Homo sapiens: one gene and its partners. The protein of the gene in region 4 purifies or fractionates together with the protein of the main gene of each other region. This does not show direct contact. Each region holds a gene or a part of one and is shown on either strand. Other genes may lie near its edges.

The links.
Region 1: the proteins of SHKBP1 (region 4) and EOLA1 purify together in Homo sapiens (co-immunoprecipitation; one large-scale study listed by IntAct). This does not show direct contact.
Region 2: the proteins of SHKBP1 (region 4) and ASPSCR1 purify together in Homo sapiens (co-immunoprecipitation; 3 studies listed by BioGRID and IntAct, with this or other methods). This does not show direct contact.
Region 3: the proteins of SHKBP1 (region 4) and CC2D1B purify together in Homo sapiens (co-immunoprecipitation; one large-scale study listed by IntAct). This does not show direct contact.
Region 5: the proteins of SHKBP1 (region 4) and CCP110 purify together in Homo sapiens (co-immunoprecipitation; one large-scale study listed by IntAct). This does not show direct contact.
Region 6: the proteins of SHKBP1 (region 4) and CREB3L2 purify together in Homo sapiens (co-immunoprecipitation; one large-scale study listed by IntAct). This does not show direct contact.
Region 7: the proteins of SHKBP1 (region 4) and PLEKHA7 purify together in Homo sapiens (co-immunoprecipitation; one large-scale study listed by IntAct). This does not show direct contact.

Annotation. Positions count from the first base shown.
Region 1 is NC_000023.11:149,544,012-149,546,421, reverse strand, and holds part of EOLA1 (protein EOLA1), read right to left. Parts: exon of another isoform or gene 1,331-2,410; coding exon of another isoform or gene 1,294-1,330; intron 1,055-1,293; coding exon of another isoform or gene 922-1,054; intron 821-921; coding exon of another isoform or gene 792-820; coding exon 539-791; intron 1-538. UniProt on the Homo sapiens protein: May play a role in cell protection during the inflammatory response. In epithelial cells, negatively regulates IL6 production and apoptosis through the regulation of MT2A expression.
Region 2 is NC_000017.11:82,008,629-82,012,128, forward strand, and holds part of ASPSCR1 (tether containing UBX domain for GLUT4), read left to right. Parts: intron 1-408; coding exon 409-563; intron 564-857; coding exon 858-939; intron 940-2,173; coding exon 2,174-2,240; intron 2,241-2,914; coding exon 2,915-2,977; intron 2,978-3,500. UniProt on the Homo sapiens protein: Tethering protein that sequesters GLUT4-containing vesicles in the cytoplasm in the absence of insulin. Modulates the amount of GLUT4 that is available at the cell surface. Enhances VCP methylation catalyzed by VCPKMT.
Region 3 is NC_000001.11:52,353,152-52,356,205, reverse strand, and holds part of CC2D1B (coiled-coil and C2 domain-containing protein 1B), read left to right. Parts: coding exon 1-20; intron 21-361; coding exon 362-435; intron 436-539; coding exon 540-598; intron 599-756; coding exon 757-808; intron 809-1,266; coding exon 1,267-1,366; intron 1,367-1,507; coding exon 1,508-1,598; intron 1,599-2,558; coding exon 2,559-2,687; 3' UTR 2,688-2,688; exon of another isoform or gene 2,689-2,982; 3' UTR 2,983-3,054. UniProt on the Homo sapiens protein: Transcription factor that binds specifically to the DRE (dual repressor element) and represses HTR1A gene transcription in neuronal cells.
Region 4 is NC_000019.10:40,589,385-40,591,897, forward strand, and holds the end of SHKBP1 (SH3KBP1-binding protein 1), read left to right. Parts: intron 1-859; coding exon 860-1,038; intron 1,039-1,345; coding exon 1,346-1,469; intron 1,470-1,591; coding exon 1,592-1,823; 3' UTR 1,824-2,013; downstream 2,014-2,513.
Region 5 is NC_000016.10:19,550,925-19,553,908, forward strand, and holds the end of CCP110 (centriolar coiled-coil protein of 110 kDa), read left to right. Parts: intron 1-271; coding exon 272-347; 3' UTR 348-2,484; downstream 2,485-2,984.
Region 6 is NC_000007.14:137,874,479-137,877,282, reverse strand, and holds the end of CREB3L2 (cyclic AMP-responsive element-binding protein 3-like protein 2), read left to right. Parts: 3' UTR 1-2,304; downstream 2,305-2,804. UniProt on the Homo sapiens protein: Transcription factor involved in unfolded protein response (UPR).
Region 7 is NC_000011.10:16,776,797-16,780,414, reverse strand, and holds the end of PLEKHA7 (pleckstrin homology domain-containing family A member 7), read left to right. Parts: intron 1-1,394; coding exon 1,395-1,417; 3' UTR 1,418-3,118; downstream 3,119-3,618. UniProt on the Homo sapiens protein: Required for zonula adherens biogenesis and maintenance. Acts via its interaction with CAMSAP3, which anchors microtubules at their minus-ends to zonula adherens, leading to the recruitment of KIFC3 kinesin to the junctional site.

The DNA of each region.
Region 1 (2,410 bases), on a different chromosome or scaffold from region 4:
ACTGCCTGGGAAGCTACAGGTGATGCCTGAGCAGGTCACCAGGGGACAGATGCTGATGTCGGGCCTCAGTCACCTAGAGGTTAGGGGACTTTCCCAGGGTGCTGTGAGTGGTGGGGCTGGGGCAGGTTCATGAAGCCAGGCGGGCAGCCCAACTCTAGAGGCCACCTGACCCATTCGGCGGGCTGGGCTGCTTTTCATGGTCTCTGCCACACATGTGCACTCACACATGTATGTGCAAATACACACAGCCAAACACCACAAACACCATGTGCACATGGCCCTGACCAGGCTTCTCACTGAGATCAGAAACAGGAACTGAGGCCCAGAGTGGAGAAATGATTTACCAGAACTCGTGGAAGCCAGCCATACCAACCCCCAGCCCAAGGTCCTTGCCGCCCCTTTGAAGGTGTGTTGCCAAAGGAAACTGTGTTATACACGCCAATCAGTTCAGATGACAAGAGAAGCCCCCAAATTCCCAAGCAAGATCTTGGGCAGCAGCCCTAGGCGTTGTCTGCGCATTTGGTACATTGTCACTTACCCGCTATCACTCCTCGACCAAACTTTTCCCCTTTCCTGAGCAAGGCCTGAATCTGAGCAGGAGTCATCCCGAGTCTCTCCACCAGCAGCTCCCGCCAGGCATCGCCTTCCCAGTCCCTGTGAGCAATGTGGACGGCGATGGTACAGTTCCGCTGGCTGCTCAGCAGGGGACGCCAGCGCGTCTCCACAGTCTTGATTCCATTTAAGACAAAGCCAGCATAAGGCTGCCGGAAGGAGAGGCAGCCAAACTTCATCTTCGCAAGCGCCCCGGGCCTCCCGTAGCCTGCGGAAGCACAGAAGCGCATCACACGCCAGCCCTCCAAGCTCATGGGCAGTGGCCTGACCTTCCCCCCGTGTCTCTCAGGTGGCCTAAATCGCACTGACCTTGATGGTCTCCTGCTTCCGTCTGTCACTGATGTCCAGCACCACAGCAGGCCCAAGGGAAGGGGCTGGGATTCGGCTGACTCAGGTCCATCCCATGGAGTCTTTGGGGCGGTCCGGAGTAGGGCGGGGACAGCTAGAGGAAGGCACAGGCAGGATACCATGTGGTCAGTGCTATGACAGAGGTCACCGAGCCCTAGGGCAACACAGAGGACAGAGGGCCCCCTTGGCCTAGCCAGAGTGGAGAGTCCGGGCTGGTGTTAGCCCTCTTCCAGCACAGAGGGAGAGTCCCACCCTCTGCTTCTCTTCCCTTTCCCCTGCTGTGCCCTGCCAATACTCTCAGTGCCCTGGCCCTGCCGCCACCAAGGCACTGACCTTCCCAGCTCCTACTCCAGGGCTGCTGAGCCCACATCGTTGATATCCAATCTCAGCTCTGTCCTCAGGATGCACCGTGACCTCAGATGGCCCTCAGTCAGACATCTCCTCTCCACCCCTCTGGGTGCCACCTTCCTCAAGCCCCTTCCCCTACCACTGCTCTCCACTGTCAGCAGATGCCCCTGTCCCAATCTGAGCTGAGAAAAGAAGAATGATAATCAGAACAACTAGCAACCCCACACACATGCCTTCCACGTGCCAGCCTCTGGGATGGCATGATCCTCGGATCATCAAATTGAATCTTCAAGTAACCCAGCAGGGTCAGTGGTACTGTGAGGCCCACTCTATGGCTGAGGAGAATGAGGCACCAGCCCACAGTCACACGGGCTCTGACTTCCCACAACTCTTGCCCAGCCTCCTGCGTGTCTGGCTTGGGAGAGGGTCCCCTCCTCTTGCATGGAGGACGGCCCTGTGCCTTGGAAGGAACCCTGGGCTCGAAACCAGAACCTCAGCCCAGTCATAGACTCTTGAGATGCCTCAGTTTCCACATGGCTGTGAGGAAGGGAGATAAGGCACCAAGAGCACCCAGCCCAGTACGTGGCACCTAATAGAACAGTCAGAAATAGTGGCTGCCCTCACCCCTCAGGCCCGTGGCCCCGCCCCCGGCCCTGAACTCCACCCTTGAGCTGCCCCTACTCCTCTCTCTGTCCTTCCTTTCAACACATAAACGCAACCTCTAGTACGCTCTATGATTTTAAGAAAATATACCCACCCTCATGAGACAAAGCCCTGATAGGGCCAAAGCTGCCTGGTATTCACTCCTTTCCCAGTCTGCACTGCAGCCTTCTGAGCTCCAGATCTCCTGCTTTTCTCCCGCCTCTGGGGTGAGCTGCCTCAGCTGAGCCGGTTGCCTGCTGTGCTCTGGACCCTGCTCCTCTGGCTCACTCCGGGCCCTGGGTGCCACCAGCCACCATCTATGCTCGCTCAGCATCCCTACTCTGAGCACACGCGCGCCTCCCACTCTGCCTCCCTTCTCTACAACCCTGAACAGCCGAGACCTCAGAAGAGCTGTCTACATGCGCAGTCTCTACTTCCTCTCTGAACCTTCTGCCCCCAC
Region 2 (3,500 bases), on a different chromosome or scaffold from region 4:
CTGTGGCCAAGAGGGCAGCGGGGGCAGCTGGACTGGGGTTTTTGCCGACGCTCTAATTTGGCGGCTGTCGCCACCCCTCCCCCCCATGGAGACCCTGACGTGGCCTGAGCCAGACTCCAGGGGCCATGTGCCCTGCTGGGGAGCAGGGGCTCAGCATCAGGTCTGGTGCACTGACTGGGAGAGGGGGGTCTCCAGCCCTGGACAGGCTCTGAGTGGGGTGGGGTCCCCCAGCTGCTGTGCCCAGCCCTGCCCCCAGGACCTGGCCTTGGCCCTGCGCTGGCCGGGGCCAGGGAGGGAGTGGGCCCAGCTCCCAAGTCTGTGTGACCACCTCGGCTGGGGCACTGACAGCCCGGGGTGCGGAGGGCCCAGCCCGTGACACCCGCCGTCAGCCGCGCCCTCTGCCTCCAGCCCGTGGACCGGGAGCCCGTGGACCGGGAGCCGGTGGTGTGCCACCCCGACCTGGAGGAGCGGCTGCAGGCCTGGCCAGCGGAGCTGCCTGATGAGTTCTTTGAGCTGACGGTGGACGACGTGAGAAGACGCTTGGCCCAGCTCAAGAGTGAGCGGTGGGTGCCCCCTCAGTGCCTCCCGGCATCTTCGCGCCAGGGTTTGCCCCATCGGGTGCTTGTGCTGCCCGCTGTCCCCAGTGCCAGCACTGGCTCCCGGCCCAGGTCCCTGACAGGCTGCCCTTAACAGGACCTCAGAGGGTTGGGGCCCAGGGAGGGGCGTCCAGACCTTCCTGCCTTGTGTGGGGAGAGCAGCCCACTCCCACCCTGGAGGGTGCAGGTGAGGAGCCCGGGGCCTGTTGCCAGGGCCCCCATTCTGACCAGAAGCCCTGTTCCTTCCCCTCCTCACCACAGGAAGCGCCTGGAAGAAGCCCCCTTGGTGACCAAGGCCTTCAGGGAGGCGCAGATAAAGGAGAAGCTGGAGCGCTACCCAAAGGTCTGCAGACAGGATGTGGGGGCGACTGAGGCACAGCTCTGAGGGGGCCCCCCGTGAGGTCTGTGGACGGGATGGGGCGACTGAGGCACAGCTCTGAGCGGGCCCCCTGTGAGGTCTGTGGACAGGACGTGGTGGCGACTGAGGCACAGCTCTGAGCGGGCCCCCTGTGAGGTCTGTGGATGGGACGTGGGGGCGACTGAGGTACAGCTCTGAGGGGGCCCCCTGTGAGGTCTGTGGATGGGACGTGGGGGCGACTGAGGCACAGCTCTGAGCAGGGCCCCCCCGTGGTGGCGCGCATGCCCTTAGTGGCCAGTTGATCCTCCCCTGCTCATGATTTAGAATGAAACCTTTTTTTTTTTTTGAGACGGAGTCTCTCTCTGTCGCCCAGGCTGGAGTCAGTGGTGCCATCTCAGCTCACTGCAAGCTCCGCCTCCCGGGTTCAAGTGGTTCTCCTGCCTCAGCCTCCCAAGTAGCTGGGATTTCAGGTACCCGCTACCACTAGCTCGGCTAATTTTTGTTGTTTTTTTTTTTTTTACTAGAGATGGAGTTTTACCATGTTGGCCCGGCTGGTCTCGAACTCCTGACCTCAGGTGATCTGCCCGCCTCGGCCTCCCAAAGTTCTGGGATTACAGGCTTGAGCCACCACACCTGGCTGAATGAAACTTTAAACAGCACATTTGAGCCGGGCGTGGTGGCTCACGCCTGTAATCCCAGCACTTTGGGAGGCCAAGGTGGGCGGATCATGAGGTCAGGAGATCGAGACCATCCTGGCTGACACGGTGAAACCCCATCTCTACTAAAAATACAAAAAATTAGTCAGGAGAGGTGGCGCACGCCTGTAGTCCCAGCTGCTCGGGAGGCTGAGGCAGGAGAAAGGCGTGAACCCGGGAGGTGGAGCTTACAGTGAGCCGAGATCATGCCACTGCACTCCAGCCTGGGCGACAGAGTGAGACTCCATCTCAAAAAAAAAAAAAAAAAAAAAAAACCAGCACATTTGAACCCAGGTCAGTGTGGTTTTAGAACGCAGGCCGCTGTGCACACACACGGCACTTGGCTGTCTCCATGCCCAGCCTGCCACGGGGGAGTCAAAGCCCAGGCCCTGATTGGGGGTGGCTGCTTCTGCCTGCCTCAGCCCTGGTGTCCATGGCCCAGCATGGGCCGAGTGGGGAGGCCACGCCCTGGTCCCTGGTGCAGCTCCGGCCGTCCCTCCAACCCTTCCACTTGTCTGGCCTAGGTGGCTCTGAGGGTCCTGTTCCCCGACCGCTACGTCCTACAGGGCTTCTTCCGCCCCAGCGAGACAGGTGGGCAGCGCTGTGGGGTGTCCGGGGATGGGGGGCAGGGGCCCATGGGGCCTCTCCCGGCTCCTTCCTTCCAGGCCACAGGACTGCAGCCACCTGGCCTGCGGGCTCCAGGGCACTGGGTGGGTGCGGGTGCTGATGTCCCCTTGGGGGTGCAGAGGCATCCCAGTTCGCAGAGTGTCAGGCAGGCTGGGCGCTTGCTCCAGGTGCCCGGCCCCAGCTCAGGGAGCCCGTGGTCCTGAGTGCTCACGTCGCCCACCTACTGGGCATGGGTGGGGCAGAGGGGCACCCAGAGGAAGGCACCCTACCCCGGGAGGAGGGCAGTGGTGCTGTGACATTCAGGGGCTTGTGACCTGTACCCAGACGGCCGGGCGGCAGCAGCCCAAGGTCACAGGGGCCTCCCCCAGGGAAAGGGAAGCGCTTAGGCTGGGGCGGGGGTGGGGCTGGGGGGCAGCGGGTGGCAGTGGGAGTGCTCTCCAGCAGGGCGGGGGTCCCAAGTGTGGCCCGCACGGTGGCCCAGCCACGCCGAGCACCTGGAGTGCTGTGGGAGGAACAGGGCTGAATTCCCACCCCTCGGGGAAAGGCCCAGGAGGGTGGGAGCAGTGGCCCAGGTGCTGGGGCAGCCCGGGGCTGGCGTGGTGGAAGAGCTGTCTGTATGTTCTTTTTCTCCTCTGCAGTGGGGGACTTGCGAGACTTCGTGAGGAGCCACCTGGGGAACCCCGAGCTGTCATTTTACCTGTGTACGTTTTTTCTCCTGAGCCCACTCCTGCCTCCAGTGCTCGGGGCCTTGGTGCTGTGGGCACACCGCCCGTCCCAGCTGGGGCTCGTGGCAGCTTCTCCACAGGAGCAGCATCTGTGGCCTCCCGCCCAGGTGCCTCCTGCAGCCCATGGTGTCTGTGTGGAGACCTAGGAGGGCCCTTCTCCCCGAGCCAGGCGGTGGGAGCCAGGCTTCCTGCCTTCTCTCTCAGCGCCCTGCTCCCCTCTGGAGCCCTGCTGCACCCCAGCCTGGTCCCCACCCCTGGGGCTCAGGCCACTCCTGCCCGAGGGCTGTGGGAAGGGTGGGTGGACAGGGAGTGGCTGGCCTCCCTTGGAGGGTGTCTAGGTGGCAAAGGGTTAGGCTGCCCACTGCAAGGGGAGCCGGGCTGCACGGGTGGTGTCCCCTGCAGGTGGGCCTGCCCCCCACCGGCCCTTCCGAGCCCTCAGCTGGAGTTTCTGCAGCAGGAGTGTGGGCACAGGGCGTGCTCGTGAGGGGCTCTTCTGCCC
Region 3 (3,054 bases), on a different chromosome or scaffold from region 4:
AAGACATTCCAGACTGTGAGGTACCAAGGCCTAGGGAAACAGGGGCTCCAGGCAGGGAGGGGCAGGAGGCTGGGAGCCCAGGCCAGAGACTGCTACCCCTTTAGTGAGGCTTCCCAAGCCTGGCCCCGCTGTGGGCACTGGGGCTGCTGAGGACGACAGGGTGCATGCTAGTGGAGAGCGCACAGCTGTCTGGGTGCTGTGGAAAGAGCTCTGGACCAGAAGTCAGAGATCAAGGTCTGCATACCAGCTCTGCCTTCCCTCCCGTCACCACCCAGCTGGGCAGACAGGCCCTGGACGAAGGGACCTTGTTCCACTACTGTCCTTCACTTTTGAGCATTTTCTCCTTCCCGCTTGGCTCTAGGATCTTCTCAGAACTCAACAGCACAGAAATGCATCTGATCATTGTCCGGGGAATGAACCTCCCAGCCCCTCCAGGTAACCCTAGGGCCGCCCCTACTCCAGGAGGCTCTTGCCCGGACACTCCAAGTGCTAGGCTCCTGGCCACTCCCTCTGACTTGACTCCCTTTTCTCCTTCCCAGGGGTGACTCCCGATGACCTGGATGCTTTTGTGCGGTTTGAGTTTCACTACCCTAACTCGGTGAGGTTCAGGTAGAAGTAGGATCCTCTGAAACCCGCCTTGCATTCCAGGACCCTGTGCTCACTTTCTTCCCATCCCTGGGAGGTGTGGCTGCAGTGCCTGCCCTGTGTGCCTCTTTGTTTATACGCTGTCCTGACTTCTCCCTCCTCACTGCTTAGGACCAGGCTCAAAAAAGCAAAACAGCTGTGGTGAAGAACACAAACTCTCCAGGTGAGGGCCACACGTGGGCCTCTTTCTCCTCCCTCAGAGTGTGTGGGCAGCACTGGTGTTTCCAGAGTGGGTTCCCATCTATGCCCTTACTTGATCCACCCCACTTGGGAGATAAAGGTGCTGTTAACATGCTTCTTCTGTAGTTGGAGAAACACGCAGAGAGGTACAGGGACTTGCCTGGGGCCTCATGGCAAGGAAGTGGTAGAAATGGGATATGAACACAGGAATTCTGTATCCCAATTCCAAGTCTTTCCTACTTTGTTACAATCTATGACTAAAAAGAGTACAAAAACTCACTTCCAAGGCCAGGACCGCGATGCTCTACCACCCTTTGGAGGCAGTACCCCAAAATGCAGGTGGAGAGATTGGGGGAAGGCAGCCAGCCCTGGGCCTCCATTTCCACTTCCTCAGGAAATCCCGAGAGCCAAGCCCCTCCTTGCTTTCTCCCCCTTTGCCAGAATTTGATCAACTCTTCAAACTAAACATCAACCGAAACCACCGGGGCTTCAAGAGGGTGATCCAGAGCAAAGGCATCAAGTTTGAGATCTTCCACAAAGGGTGAGGCTCCTATCGGTCATGCTGCCACACGGGCCGGGAGGAGGGAAGAGCGTTTGTCACTGCTGCCCCTGCATGGGCTCAGCCAGCACATTCCTGCCTTCCCTGCCCAGTCCAATCCTCTGCTGCCTCTTGACTCCCCAGGTCCTTCTTCAGAAGCGACAAGCTGGTTGGCACAGCACACCTGAAACTGGAGCGGCTGGAGAATGAGTGTGAGATCAGAGAAATTGTGGAGGTAGGGGCTGGGGTGTGGGCAAGCCAAAGGGGTTGGTACGACAAGAGCCAATACGCACTGAATGCCACACCTTGTTGTAGGTTTTCGTGCTCATTACTTAATTTGAAATTCTCCACAAGTGTGCTTAGAGTAGGTGGAATCCTCATTTCACAGATGGAGAGGTTCAGAAGGTCTGAGAAATCTCACAGAGGGACCCAGGAGAAGGCAGCCTCCTTGTTTCCATGAACTCAATGGATTCCACAGGCAAGGACTATACGACCTTGCCTCTGACAAATGAGGAAACTCAGGTCCGAGAGGAAAGGGGGTTCTGTAAGCTCATATGGTGTGTCCTTGGCAGAGCTACGACCAGCTCCTTACTGATAACCTATGTAGGCTGGGGCTCTTCCCACTGTAGCACACCTGGCCCTACTGCCTGCCTGGGGAAGTTGTTCTTATGCGGGCCCTGGTCTCTATTGGAGCCACTGAGGGTGGTTGGACTTCTTGGGCCTATTGTACTGCTTTGTGCCCTAATTGACTGCCTCATCTTCTGCCCAAAAGAGGGAGTAGCGTGGTGAATGGGAAGGAACCCTGGGTTTGGGGTTCCAGTGCTGACTCTGCCACATAGAGTCATCTGCTTCTCTCTCTTGGCCATCTGTGAAGTGAGGGTTTGGGTCAGTGGAAGGCTGCTTCTTCAAGCCAATGTTTCTTCCAGAAGTTGCCGTGGGGATTGAGGAGAAAATGAACAGAGCTCTAGGATGCTTGTCTGGATTTATTTATTACTTTTTTAATAAGACTCACCTAAAACCACCACCACCTCCTCCTCCAAATACTGGGAGGGTAGGGTTTTCATGAATGGAGATTCCTGTGTTCATGCCACAGGACATCTTAGCTCCTCTCACTTCTTTCCTGGGAATGTAGGGACCTGCCTGCTCCCCATCTCTGTCCCCTTAGTTACCATTTCCCTCTCTGTGGTCCTCACAGGTCCTGGATGGAAGGAAGCCCACCGGGGGGAAGCTGGAGGTGAAGGTGAGGCTGCGGGAGCCTCTGAGTGGCCAGGATGTGCAGATGGTCACTGAGAACTGGCTGGTTCTGGAGCCCAGGGGCTTGTGAGGTGGGCAGCTCTCTGGGCCTTCAGAACCTTTGCCCCCTCCTTTTACTCAACTAACTACTCAACTCATATCTGGAGAGAAAACCTAGGAGTTTCTCATCTATGAGAAAGACCTACCATGCTGGGTAGGGCTTATGGGCTGAGTTTCTGATGTTCCTCAGTAGAACTGGGAAGAGAAGGTAACCTTCCAAGGTTTAACTATCTATCTATCTATCTATCTTCAGGAAACCCTTTCTAAAATCTTTGTGTTTTCACTGCAGTTTAGACTGACTTCTTGTGCTTTGCACCCCTGTGTAGCCGATGGCCAGCACCAGGAGAGGAGTCAGGCCGCGACTGTGCAGGAGATGACTTTCCCAGCTTTGCTGGCTT
Region 4 (2,513 bases):
TGACCTGGCGCAGTGCCAGCCCAGTGCAGGCAGGGCCAGGTTGAAGGCACAGGGGGTGGGGTCAGGGTGGGATGGGGGGCCCAGGCGGAGGGGGAGGGGTGGGATGGGGGCCCAGGGGGAGAGGTCGGGGTGGGATGGGGGGACCAGGGGGAGGGGTTGGGGTGGGATAGGGGGACCAGGGGCAGGGGTCGGGATGGGATGGAGGAGACCCAGGGAGCTGTAGGAGCCTTGCTTCAGCTGGGAAAGGGGCCTCGGAGGATGTTCTGGATGAAGGGACTCTGAGCAGAGACCTAGAGGACAAGTAGGAAGGAGCAGAAGAAAGAAGGCAGGGGAAGGGGGCCCCAGCCTGAGGGAACTGTATGTGCAGAGGCTGAGAAGGGCCAAATAGGGTCACATGGGAAGGACACGTGGGCTCCTGGGCTGGAGCACAGAACAGGAGGTGAGGATGGGGTGCAGATGCGGGCGGGCCTTGTCAGGCTGTGGAAGGGCTGAGGCTTTGTCCTGTGCGGGGAGCCGTGGCCACTGCATGGGGGATGAAAGGAGGCTTGATGGGAGGCCAGGAGCCCAGGGAGGAGGCCAGGAGGCTGATAGGAGGTGGGGGAGCAGCTGGGACGGGCCTCAGGTCTTCCCTGCAGTGGGAGCAGGGAAGAGCAGAAGCTCTGGGAGACTCCCTGGGTGTTTGGGGCTGCGGTGTCCAAGAGCTGCTGGACCCTTGGGACTGGAACTCAAAAGCAGGCTAGGGATGGATAAAGATTGGGATGGCCCCTGGAGAGGCAGGAACTGCAGCCACAGTGGTGGGGACTGGGACGAGGAAGGGTGAGAAAGCGAGGGTGACCACCTCCCCCACTGCACCCCCCAGGGTGTGCTCCGTGCGCTCCGTGGACGGCTCACCCACGACAGCCTTCACAGTGCTGGAGTGCGAGGGCTCCCGGCGGCTCGGCTCTCGGCCCCGGCGCTACCTGCTCACTGGCCAGGCCAACGGCAGCTTGGCCATGTGGGACCTAACCACCGCCATGGACGGCCTCGGCCAGGCCCCTGGTACTCCCTGCCCCACCCCAATCCCGTCCCAAGCCCCACAGCCTCACCCAGAACCACTCTCCACTGCCAACTGCTTGATCTCTCTCCCAGGCCCTTGCCCTCTGACCCCTTTTCCTTTGACCCCCTCTCTGCTCCCCATCCCTTCCTGCCCTTGTTTTTCAACCCCTGTCTCAGCCTCTGGCCCCCATGCATTGATCTCTGCTTCCTCTCTCCTGTCCTGACCCTCGGTGCTTGCACTGCAATGCAACCCAGGCCCTTGCCCTATGACCCCTGTCTTGCCCCCTGACCCTGCTTCCGTGCCCCCCAGCAGGTGGCCTGACGGAGCAAGAGCTGATGGAACAGCTGGAACACTGTGAGCTGGCCCCGCCGGCTCCTTCAGCTCCCTCATGGGGCTGTCTCCCCAGCCCCTCACCCCGCATCTCCCTCACCAGGTAGCCACAACTCCACTGCCCCTTCTGTGCAATGAGGGGAGAGGGGACAGCATGGTGTTCCCGGGGACAGAGTGGCCCAGCTGCCCCGTGATGACGTGCACTTACTGTCCTTACTTCCTCAGCCTCCACTCAGCCTCCAGCAACACCTCCTTGTCTGGCCACCGTGGGAGCCCAAGCCCCCCGCAGGCTGAGGCCCGGCGCCGTGGTGGGGGCAGCTTTGTGGAACGCTGCCAGGAACTGGTGCGGAGTGGGCCAGACCTCCGACGGCCACCCACACCAGCCCCGTGGCCCTCCAGCGGTCTCGGCACTCCCCTCACACCTCCCAAGATGAAGCTCAATGAAACTTCCTTTTGAACAACGCAGCTGCCATGATGCCTTGGGATGCCCTGGTCCTGGGGGACTCAGGTGCCTCCCTGATTCCTGTGGGAACCCCGGGTTCAGGGCCAGGGCCTCCTTGGAATAAATGGTTATTGTTACTAGGTCCCCACCTTCCCTCTTTTCTGGAAGCCAAAGTCACCCTCCCCAATAAAGTCCTCACTGCCAACATCTTGCTTATTCTTAGCAGGTTTGGGACTCCCCAGGAAAGGGGTGGGGAAGATGTGGGACCCAACCCGATATATGCAAAATCAGGAACATCTACCTCTCTTGTTTAAGCAAAGGGAGGCCAGGCATGGTGGCTCACATCTATAATCCTGGCACTTTGGGAGGCCAGTTTGCTTGTGCTCAGAAGTTTCAGACTAGCCTGGGCAACATAACAAAACCCCATCTCTACAAAAAAATACAAAAATTAAGCAGGCATGGTGGTGCATGCCTGTGGTCCCAGCTTCTTGGGAGGCTGAGGTGGGAGGATCGCTTGAGCCTAGGAGGCCAAGGCTACAGTGAGCCATGATCACACCACTGCACTCCAGCCTGAGTGACAGAGTGAGATCCTGTCTCAAAAACAAAACAAAACAAAAAAGGTGTTGCAGGGGAGGAATGTGTTGGCTTTTACTCTGCCTTCAGGCATGGCTGGATCCGGGGCTTCAAACACTAATTCAGAATATC
Region 5 (2,984 bases), on a different chromosome or scaffold from region 4:
TGGTTAAGTAAAATAACACATCAGGTGGACTTGGGTTATCAGAGTTCTTCCTTCTAGCTCTGTTCCTTAGGCAACTGCTCTCCTATGCCTCAGTTTTATTATCCTTAAAATGGTCATAACAATTTCTACCTCAGGATGATTCATATAAGGATTAAATATGATAATGTATATTGCCTAGCTCAGTGTTTGTTCCAGAGTAAAAACTCATTAAATGGTATCATTATAGAAAACCTCCCATTGAGAAGTAATACTGGTTTTGCTCTATTTTTAGGAGTATATGCAGGAAAAATCCAAAGAAAGCGGCCAAATGTTGCGACAATTTAAGAAGACAACATTCATTAGGATAAAATGGGGGGAAGGATTATTATTCATGTTATTTTCCCTGCCCAAGACTTTATTTAACCCTGGACTCCGTTTACACAGACAAAGTGACATCAGAAGGCTGAGCACTTATCTGGATCATTTGGTCAGTTTGGTAATTCCTGCTCCACACCCCTATTTTCCTCTTAATAATACGTTTGGGTGAAGACAAATTAGTGTTTAGTAATTGCATCATCTCTGTGCTTACCTATACAAACATAAGTTTATTTTATATGCCCAGATGTCTACAGAGACCCTTTTTGTAAATGTCAAGGACATTTGGATTTACTTTTACAGAATATTGAAAAGATAAGACAAATTATAAATAAGTTCTAAAACATAAATTTAATTCATCTCTGCATAGTGATTTTTGAATTTGATTCAAAGGGAAATTATTGCAGAAGAATGCCTTTCCCTCATTTTATAACTTTAAAAACTTGGATTAACCACTCAATGTCCACTTTCTTTGACTTACAGTATAACCATGTAGCCAATTGTGGCCCACTAAAATCTACAGAAGTTAATGTGGGTCACCATTTTGGTCAGAAGCATACATTCCTGTCAGACAACTAGTTGTCTGACAGAAATGTTAGGCTTCATGTATGTTACCCCAGTACTGTTAGAAACATTTGTACTAGGTTATAAGATCTTTCTGTGACAGGTAACAAATTTGGGGAAGACAGCACAATCTTCTTGAATGTAGCTCTTGGGAATGCATTATTACATCCATTTCTGTAACATAATAATATGTTGCATGCAGTTATATTTTCTATTTAGTCTGTATATTTTGTTCTTCATAGTCTGTTTTTTCTAGCATGCTTGATTTAGGAGAGAATAAAGGGCTATATAATAATAAATCCAGATTTCCGGATAAGAATATTGCCTGGTTAAAATTCTGCATTGCTTAAAGACACCCATGTTTAAGATTTTTCATCACTAACATATCCATTAAAAGTATCAACTGGCCAGGCAGGGTGGCTCACGCCTGTACTCCCAGCATTTTGTGAGGCCAAGGTGGGTGGATCACCTGAGGTCAGGAGTTTGAGACCAGCCTGACCAAACATGGCGAAACCCCATCTGTACTGAAAATACAAAAATTAGGCATGGTGGTGCATGCCTGTAGTTCCAGCTACTTGGGAGGCTGAGACAGGCGAATTGCTTGAACCTGGGAGGCAGAGGTTGCAGTGAGCTGAGACTGTGCCATTGCACTCCAGTCGGGTTAACAGAGCAAGACACTGTCTCAAAAAAAAAAAAAAAAAAAAGTATCAACCAACAAATGTTACCAAGATAACGTGACTTCATGAGGGAGAATGTCACTATTAATTTATCATACCATTTCCAAAAAGGGCTTTGTGCTTTTCACATAAAATTGAGACAGTGTATATTTAATCTAATTTAAATTTTAAAGAGATACTGGTATTTTGAAAATGCAACCTATATATATTCTTAATATCCTTTTAAGAATATGGAGATGAAGATTGTTTTCTCCAATTTTCTGTGCCATTTTAAATTTAACTTTGACATCCAGCTATAGACAGAAATAATAAGCCACCCTGGGTGTAAACTTGATTTTCTTTATTGAGATGTATCATGTATTGAATGAGTGAACCAGAAAATTAGAAGATGGTCAAAAAAAGTCCAAGTTACCAATTTTTTAAAATTTATAGGCAAAGTATCAAATTGTCTTCTTAATATGATAAACTGTGCTTTATCATTCTGAAAACTCAGGATACAGCTTATTCATAGCATTGTGGGTCTCTCCAGTAAGAAAGATGCTAAAAGTTTTGTGCACTTTTTGTGTGTGTAATGCAAATTAGTTAAAACAAATAGTTTTGGAGAAAGTTAAAACTAGCTTTAGAGTAAGGATGAGAAACTTGAGTGTTTTTAATTTAAAGATAAAAGCCTGTGTTTTACACATTCTTTTTTGGTGTTCATAGCTTCTTCTCATACAGGTGCCAGACACTGTTTGTGCTTTTGATGGATTTTTATTTATATACTTTTTTTGCTTATTTTTACTTTGAGTGGAATGTTCATTAATGTAAATTGTATTTATTTTTATACTTTTATTTTCACTAGTTTTGCTTCTAGGCAAAAAGCAAAATAAACTTTTCATCTTAAAGAAAATCTAGTTTGATTGTTTTTATTTACCAGGGGAAGGACTATTAAGAAATAGGCCGGGCATGGTGGCTCATGCCTGTAATTCTAGCACTTTGGGAGGCCAAGGTGGGTGGATCATGAGATCAGGAGTTTGAGATCAGCCTGGCTAACATGGTGAAACCCCGTCTCTACTAAAAATACAAAATTAGCTGGGCGTAGTGGTGCATGCCTGTAGTTCCAGCTACTTGGGAGGCTGAAGCAGGAGAATCGCCTGAGCCTGGGATGGGGAGGCTATAGTGAGCCGAGATTGTGCCACTGCACTGCAGCCTGGGTGACAGAGCAAGACTCCATCTCAAAACAAAACAAAAAAGAAACCGATATTAGCCAGGCATGGTGGTTCACATCTGTAGTCCTAGGTACGCTGGAGGCTGAGGCAGGAGGATCACTTGAACCCAGGAGTTACAGGTGGCAGTGAGCTATAATCGCACCACTGCACTCCAGCCTGAATGAGACTTTGTCTCCAAAAC
Region 6 (2,804 bases), on a different chromosome or scaffold from region 4:
TATAAATGATTTTGATTTGGAGGCCTAATTTGTAGATTGTGAAAGCAGCTTTTAGTTTAACTTATTCACAGACCCCTTATAATTACCATGTTTTTTTTTTTCTTCCTAAATCTCTTGGTTCAGCTTGTGAATCTTACGTGCCCGTAAAGTTGGGATGTTGAATTGGCTCTTCTTTGTTCTGGCAGTGAGTCAAGTGTCCAGCATTTTTTCATAAGTGTTTTTTAAAATTGTTCTCCAGCATTTTATGGCTCCTCCCTCCCATGTCCTCAGACCCAGCAAAAGCGTAGAGGCAGAATTAGAGGCCTCTCCAGGCCAGCTCCTCTGCCCACATGTCATACAAGGTGTGAATTTGAGCACAGTCCAGAAATGGAGACATCCCACCCCCAGTTGAATAATGGCCCATTCATGCCAACCTTGCCAACACGGAGAGGGCAGAGATGCACTAGAAGACCTTCATCCTCCCCTTCCTCTGCCCCAAGTCACTACAGTTGGTTCTATTGAAGCCAGTCTTTAAGAAACCTGGGTTAAAGACACCAGCACTTCTGCTTGCTGGGCTGGCTGGACCTGTGAAGCCATGGGCAGGTAGTGCCCTCTTGAGAGTCATTTTATTTGGCCACCTTCAGGTGAGACTATCCATAGACACATGCTAGGATAGGCCCCGCTGGGAGGGCAGTTACAGGAGAGAGTAGGTGGTGGTGACGTGAGGGCTGTGAAGGATCCAGAGACAAGACTTAGATGTTTCGTTCATTCACTCACTCATTCAGTTACTCCTAAGACTTTTCAGTTTCATAAGGAAGAGTGTTGCCTGAGGCCCTAGGGAATATTGGGGAATAGAAGGGATTGAGGAAACATTAATAATAGTTATTCAAAAGACCCAAATGCTTATACTTCTCTCTCCCTTCTTCTCTCTCTGACACACACACACACACACACACACACACACACACACACGTGCACATTCCTCCCTTACATGCTCATTTGTGCCTTAAATGTGCCTTATAGGTAAATCCAGGATGACTGAGGAATCCCTCGTCACTGGGAGATTTTGTATATATTCTTTTATTATTAGATTGAGTTGGGTGTGGGGAAAAATTTTTTTCTGAAGGCTCAAAAGTGGTTTCCTAAAAGTGAGCCACTATCAGATTTGCACATCAGGAGAAAAGAAATAGGGTTACGTCCATTAGGAAAATCCCAGTTTGCAGGAGTGCAATCACATCAAAAAAACAACCAGCCAGGATTAAAGGTATTATAAATCCTCATAGCGGAACATTTCTCAGGGCAAAGGAACCTGGCTCATTTGAAGATTAATGTTCCATGCCTTTGTGGTCAAAGGGTCAGCACTTAACACAGGAAAAAACTAGGTGTTGTTTTGTTTTGTTATTTTGGACAACATAAAATTCAGGAATGTTTTATTTAGCCTTGGTTTCTAGAAGGAAGGGAAATAATATTTCTTGAGCATTTACTAGGGTGTTGCGTGCTGTGCTAAGTAAATTTTAAGTCTTTCAGTTTTATAGATACGGAAAACAAGGGTGACTCTTTACCACAGGATGAATAAAGAACTAAGTAATATGGGAAATGCAGCAATTTCTGGACTAGCTGAGCCGATTCCTTCCTGTGAGCACACTGTAAGCTTTCAAGTTCTCTGGGCAGGAATTACAGCACCTGTCCCCTGCAATGGCCCTGCTGTGTGATGCTCATCGCTTCCCTTCGTGCTGGAGCAGTCCCCCAGGTGTCCATCTCCTATCTTTTTGTTCCAATCTTCTGTGAGTTCCAGCTAGCAGGCTTTACATCTGGGGAAAGGAAAACCAGGGGTTTTAGCTCTGTTCTCTGCTCCCATCCTTCGCTCACCAGCTGAGTGAGAACATGAACTTTTTGCACCATGTACCCATGGCTTACACTACTTAGAAAATCACCTTTTCAGATAAAACAGTTTATGAGTTCATAGAGAACACCAGCACTCTTTGACAAAACTGTGAGTGACCCTTTTTAAACAATGCTGAGCAGGCCCTGAGCTATAATCAACGGTGAGCTTTAATGTCTATGCTGACAGTTAGGTTTTGCTCTCTTTTGTAACAGGTTACGTAGACCAGCAGTGTTTAAATCTAAATACGTTGTGAGTCTGTTATCTGTCCTATCGCGTTTTTTAAATGACTTTTTATTCTTTATCATAGCTAAGTAAATACCAAAAAAAAAAAAAAGCTTTGTAGGACACTTGTACTTAGTTTGGGAAAAAAAAATAAATTGAAATTGTTATGCTTTTGTATTTCCATTTCTTGCAAATAAATATTTTTTCTTAAATAGTAAGATGTTGCCCAGTCTTTATAATCTTGGTACTAATTTGAAAAGCATGTTGTTTTTTTATGAACATGGGTTTGTGTATGTGTGCCGAACCGTTCTTTCCTGGATATCTACTTGGCCTGAAAGAAGAGCCTCAAACCAGCAATTGGTATGTTATATAGGACTGAATCCAAGCCTTAGTTGGAGGAATATTGAGAATGTAATTGTTTTTTCAGGCAGCCACGGGAAGAAAAACAGTATCCTCTAGAGACTTATGCAGCATGACTGTTATTTTTATTGTCTCCTCTAACTATTCCCTAACTAGATTTCAACTGTCTGTGGATTTGATTTTGCTTTCCCCATCTCTGGTTGCTTGAGAAAGATCCTTTGGACTTGAGCCAGAAAGGAATGATCCTTCTTCCTACGAACAGTTGCAGAGGATGTCTAACAGATTCATGCTCCAGAAATTCTGATGAAATGGTTGATAAAGGTCAGTGCACTCAAGCAGAGTAATCTTCGTTCCATTA
Region 7 (3,618 bases), on a different chromosome or scaffold from region 4:
CACTGGGCACTTTAAGAGGGAGAGAAAGGGAAGCCCAGGGCAATGTGAAATTGGCCCTCAGCCAGGCAGAAAGCTCTGGCACCAACCCTACCAAGTTCTCCCCATGTGGGCATCTAGTGATGAGAGGCAGTGTGGGATGAGGAGGGAGCCCTGAAACAGGAGGCTGGCATCTGGTCCAGTCTCAAGTGAGTTCTTGGCCTGGGCCTGTTGCTTTTGAGCCCAGCGGTTCACCTGGACAGGGGAAGGTCAGACTACCAGTCTGGGCAGTCCTTACCCTGACATCCCATCCCACTATCATTTTGCAGGGCTTTCCCCTCTCCTTCCTTTACGTATACTTGTGGTTAACATTGTTGAGTGCCTGCTGTGTGCCAGGCATTGTGCTAAGTATCTCTTTCGATCCACACAACAACCCTATGAAGATATTCCCCCCCCCCTCCCCGTTTTAGAGATGAAAAAACAAAAGCTCAGAGGCCTTGAGGGATATGCGCAAGGAATCGCAGCTTGTTAAGTGCTGGGGTTTGAACCCCTTTGATGTGAGTTCAGAGCCTTTGTTCCCCATCACCACTCATGGGTTCATCTGGGCCGCCCCGAGCAGCTCTAGGTGTTTGGAGAAAGAAGTGAAAGGAGGGAGAGAGTATTTGTGCTGCAGGGAGCGAAGCATGATTTTTTGGCAGGTGTCTATCCTGGGTGCTCCCCGTGCCTCACAGCAGAGTCAGCAGGTCCCCGCCAGCCTGAGCATGAGAGGAAGAGGTCAGCCTCCTTGGGCCAGGCTCTGAGGAGGTGTGGAGTAGAGGCCCCGTGGTTGAGGAGCCATAGGGAAGTGCTCTAGCCACGCCCATTGTGAAGGCCACATTTGAGGGTGTGGCTTTCTCCTAGAGATCTGAGCACAGTAACAGCGCTCAGTCACAGAGAGGCAGGAGAGAGGTTCTGTTCCTCCTGGGTTTTGGTGCCCCCATGGCTGTAAGATTGGCCTATTATACTCTTTGGAGTACTGCATTTCTTCTTACTCTCAAAGCATCCTTGTTAAGAAGTGGGTATGACCACCATGTTTTTTAGGTTAGAAAAACAAGGCCCACAGAGGCCAAGAGCGCTACCCACATTGAAAGAATGAAGGGCAGGGCCAGACTGCACCTTTATTAGAGTCTTTGCCCTGTCGGGATGGGGACCCAATTTAGGGGCCAGCATGTGTCTAGCAGTGGAATAGGGGTGCAGGGAGGGTGGGGCAAGAGCCCCATGTGTCCTGGAAGCTGAGGGTCCCCCAGCAGCGGCCGCATTGCCAGAGCCCCCTGCTCTGCTGCTCTGCCTGTCCGCCTATCTGCCATTCCATCATGTGTGTGCAGACGTGCCTGCTCCCTGGATGCCAGCCTCTCACTGTCTCCTGTGCTTTTTGCCAGCCCAGGCAGTGACTGACCCGTGACCCAGCATGCAAAGAAGCCTGGAGCCAGGGGCCCAGTGGAACCAGCTTCCTCCAAGGAGATGACCTTTCTGCCCCCAAGGAAACCCCTTCCAGCTGAGCAGGGAATCCGGCCGGAGGAAGGAGCAGCTTACCGACTGCGGGTGTTCACCACAGGCCAGGCCCTAATATGCACCCACTAGTTTAGCTCAGACTCCTCTCTACATATGAATGGCAAAGGCACTTTTGATATACACTGTAAAATACACTGTATTTTAGAATCGGAATCTATTTTCTAATGTTCCCCTCAAGGGCTGAGTGGCAGGAAGGTTGAGGATGCAGGACTTTGCAGCTGCACGTACAGATTCAGGTACTTCTGGGTGACAGGTGTTGTGGGGGCAGGAAGGGCGGGGCAAGCCGAGGCTAGTCCAACTTCCAATGACCTCAGGAGAAAGTGAGATTTAAAGAGGTGTTCCCAGTAGACTCCAGCAAGAGGCTGGTTGGCGTGCTGTCTGGGAGAAGAGGGGCCCTTGGCTGCAGAGATCAGCTGTCCCTGACCTGATGACCAGCTCTGTGTGAAACTCCACGAGGATCACACGTGGAGCCCAAGTCTGTGCCTTGCCCCTTGGGTTTGGCTTAGGGGCAACAGTGTGTTCAAGAGGACTGGGGCCCACAACCTGCCCCCAGGCTTCCTCCAGCAAAAGGCTCTTGTCAGAAAGAAAAAAGCAGTTTGCTATCTTTTTTTTTTTTTGAGATGGAGTTTCACTCTTGTTGCCCAGGCTGGAGTGCAATGGCACGATCTCGGTTCACTGCAACCTCTGCCTCCTGGGTTCAAGTGATTCTCCTGCCTCAGCCTCCCAAGTAGCTAGGATTACAGGCATGTGCCACCACGCCCGGCTAATTTTGTATTTTTAGTAGAGACGGGGGTTTCTTCATGTTGGTGAGGTTGGTCTCGAACTCCTGACCTCAGGTGATTCATCCGCTTCAGCATCCCAAAGTGTTGGGATTACAGCCGTGAGCCACCACGCCCAGCCTGCTTTCATTTTTAACAGTACACATTGAAATACAGAAAAGGTGAGAGGAAGCAACTTTCATTGTATCGTAGCAATAAACTCCACACTGGGTGACATCTACCTAGAAATCCCTTCCCTCTAACCAGGCCATGATGGGAACCTTTGCTGCCTGCCCTTGGAGAACCCCGGATTGGCTTCCCTGGGACTCAGGTCTGGTGGCAGGAGGGCAGCAGTGTGCCCCCACCATCCCTCATGGCCTGCCGCCAGCAGGGCCATAATGGCAGGACTTTGATTTGACTTCCAGCCCCACATGAGGAGGGGGGCTACCAAGCCAGGTGCAGTGTTTGTGGCCCTTTATTTAAGTTGTTTTCTTATATTATTCTGCATATAAACAATGACGTTTAAATGGAAAAAACAACAACAACGAAAACCTCCATTGGGTGGAGCCACACTTTAAATGAAAATTTCTCTTTGACTATGCTCAGAAAAAAAAATAGAATTTTGAATATATCTAGCAGTTGTTGTCTATTTTTAACTAACTCCATATGCTGCCAGTATCGACTTCATGACATTTGCCAAAATAAAATTTTATTTTTGCCTTTATAAGATTTTCTTGGAAAAAATGAAATGAATATTTTGCAAGAAAAAGTTAATTTAAAAATGTAATGGTTTGCAAAAAAAATGTGATGTACAGATTAAAATATTAACCTGATACGTTTCCTGTTTCTTGCTGGCTATAGTCTCTGGTGAGTGGCCTGTGTACGTTTGTTTCCATTTCTTTGGAAAATCCCCACTGTCAGCTCTCGGCCCTGCTTCTATTTACCTATGAAAAGTTTCTTCTGGTGACGATTCCTTGACATTTGATTGACTGTAGAGGCCTGGATTGAGGAGGCCTGTGCTTCTGGGCCCCTGGCTAGGCTTCCACAGTTGCTCAAGGCAACCCCCTACCCCATCCCAGTCAAAGAGCCACCAGGCTGTGGACTCCCTTGTGGGGCTGGTTTGTCAGACAGACTGCAGTCCAATTCAAGACAGCGCAGGGAACGCTGTGGGCCCCCTTCCAACCCACATGCTGCCGGCTCGCTCCTGGGAGGCAGCTTAGTGACGGACCATTGCAAACTGGATTTGTATTTAATTCATTTTGACTTGTGATGTATGCTCACAACAGAAGGCAAGAAGCCAGTTCCATTGAGGGGTGTGTATATTTCTGAGCTG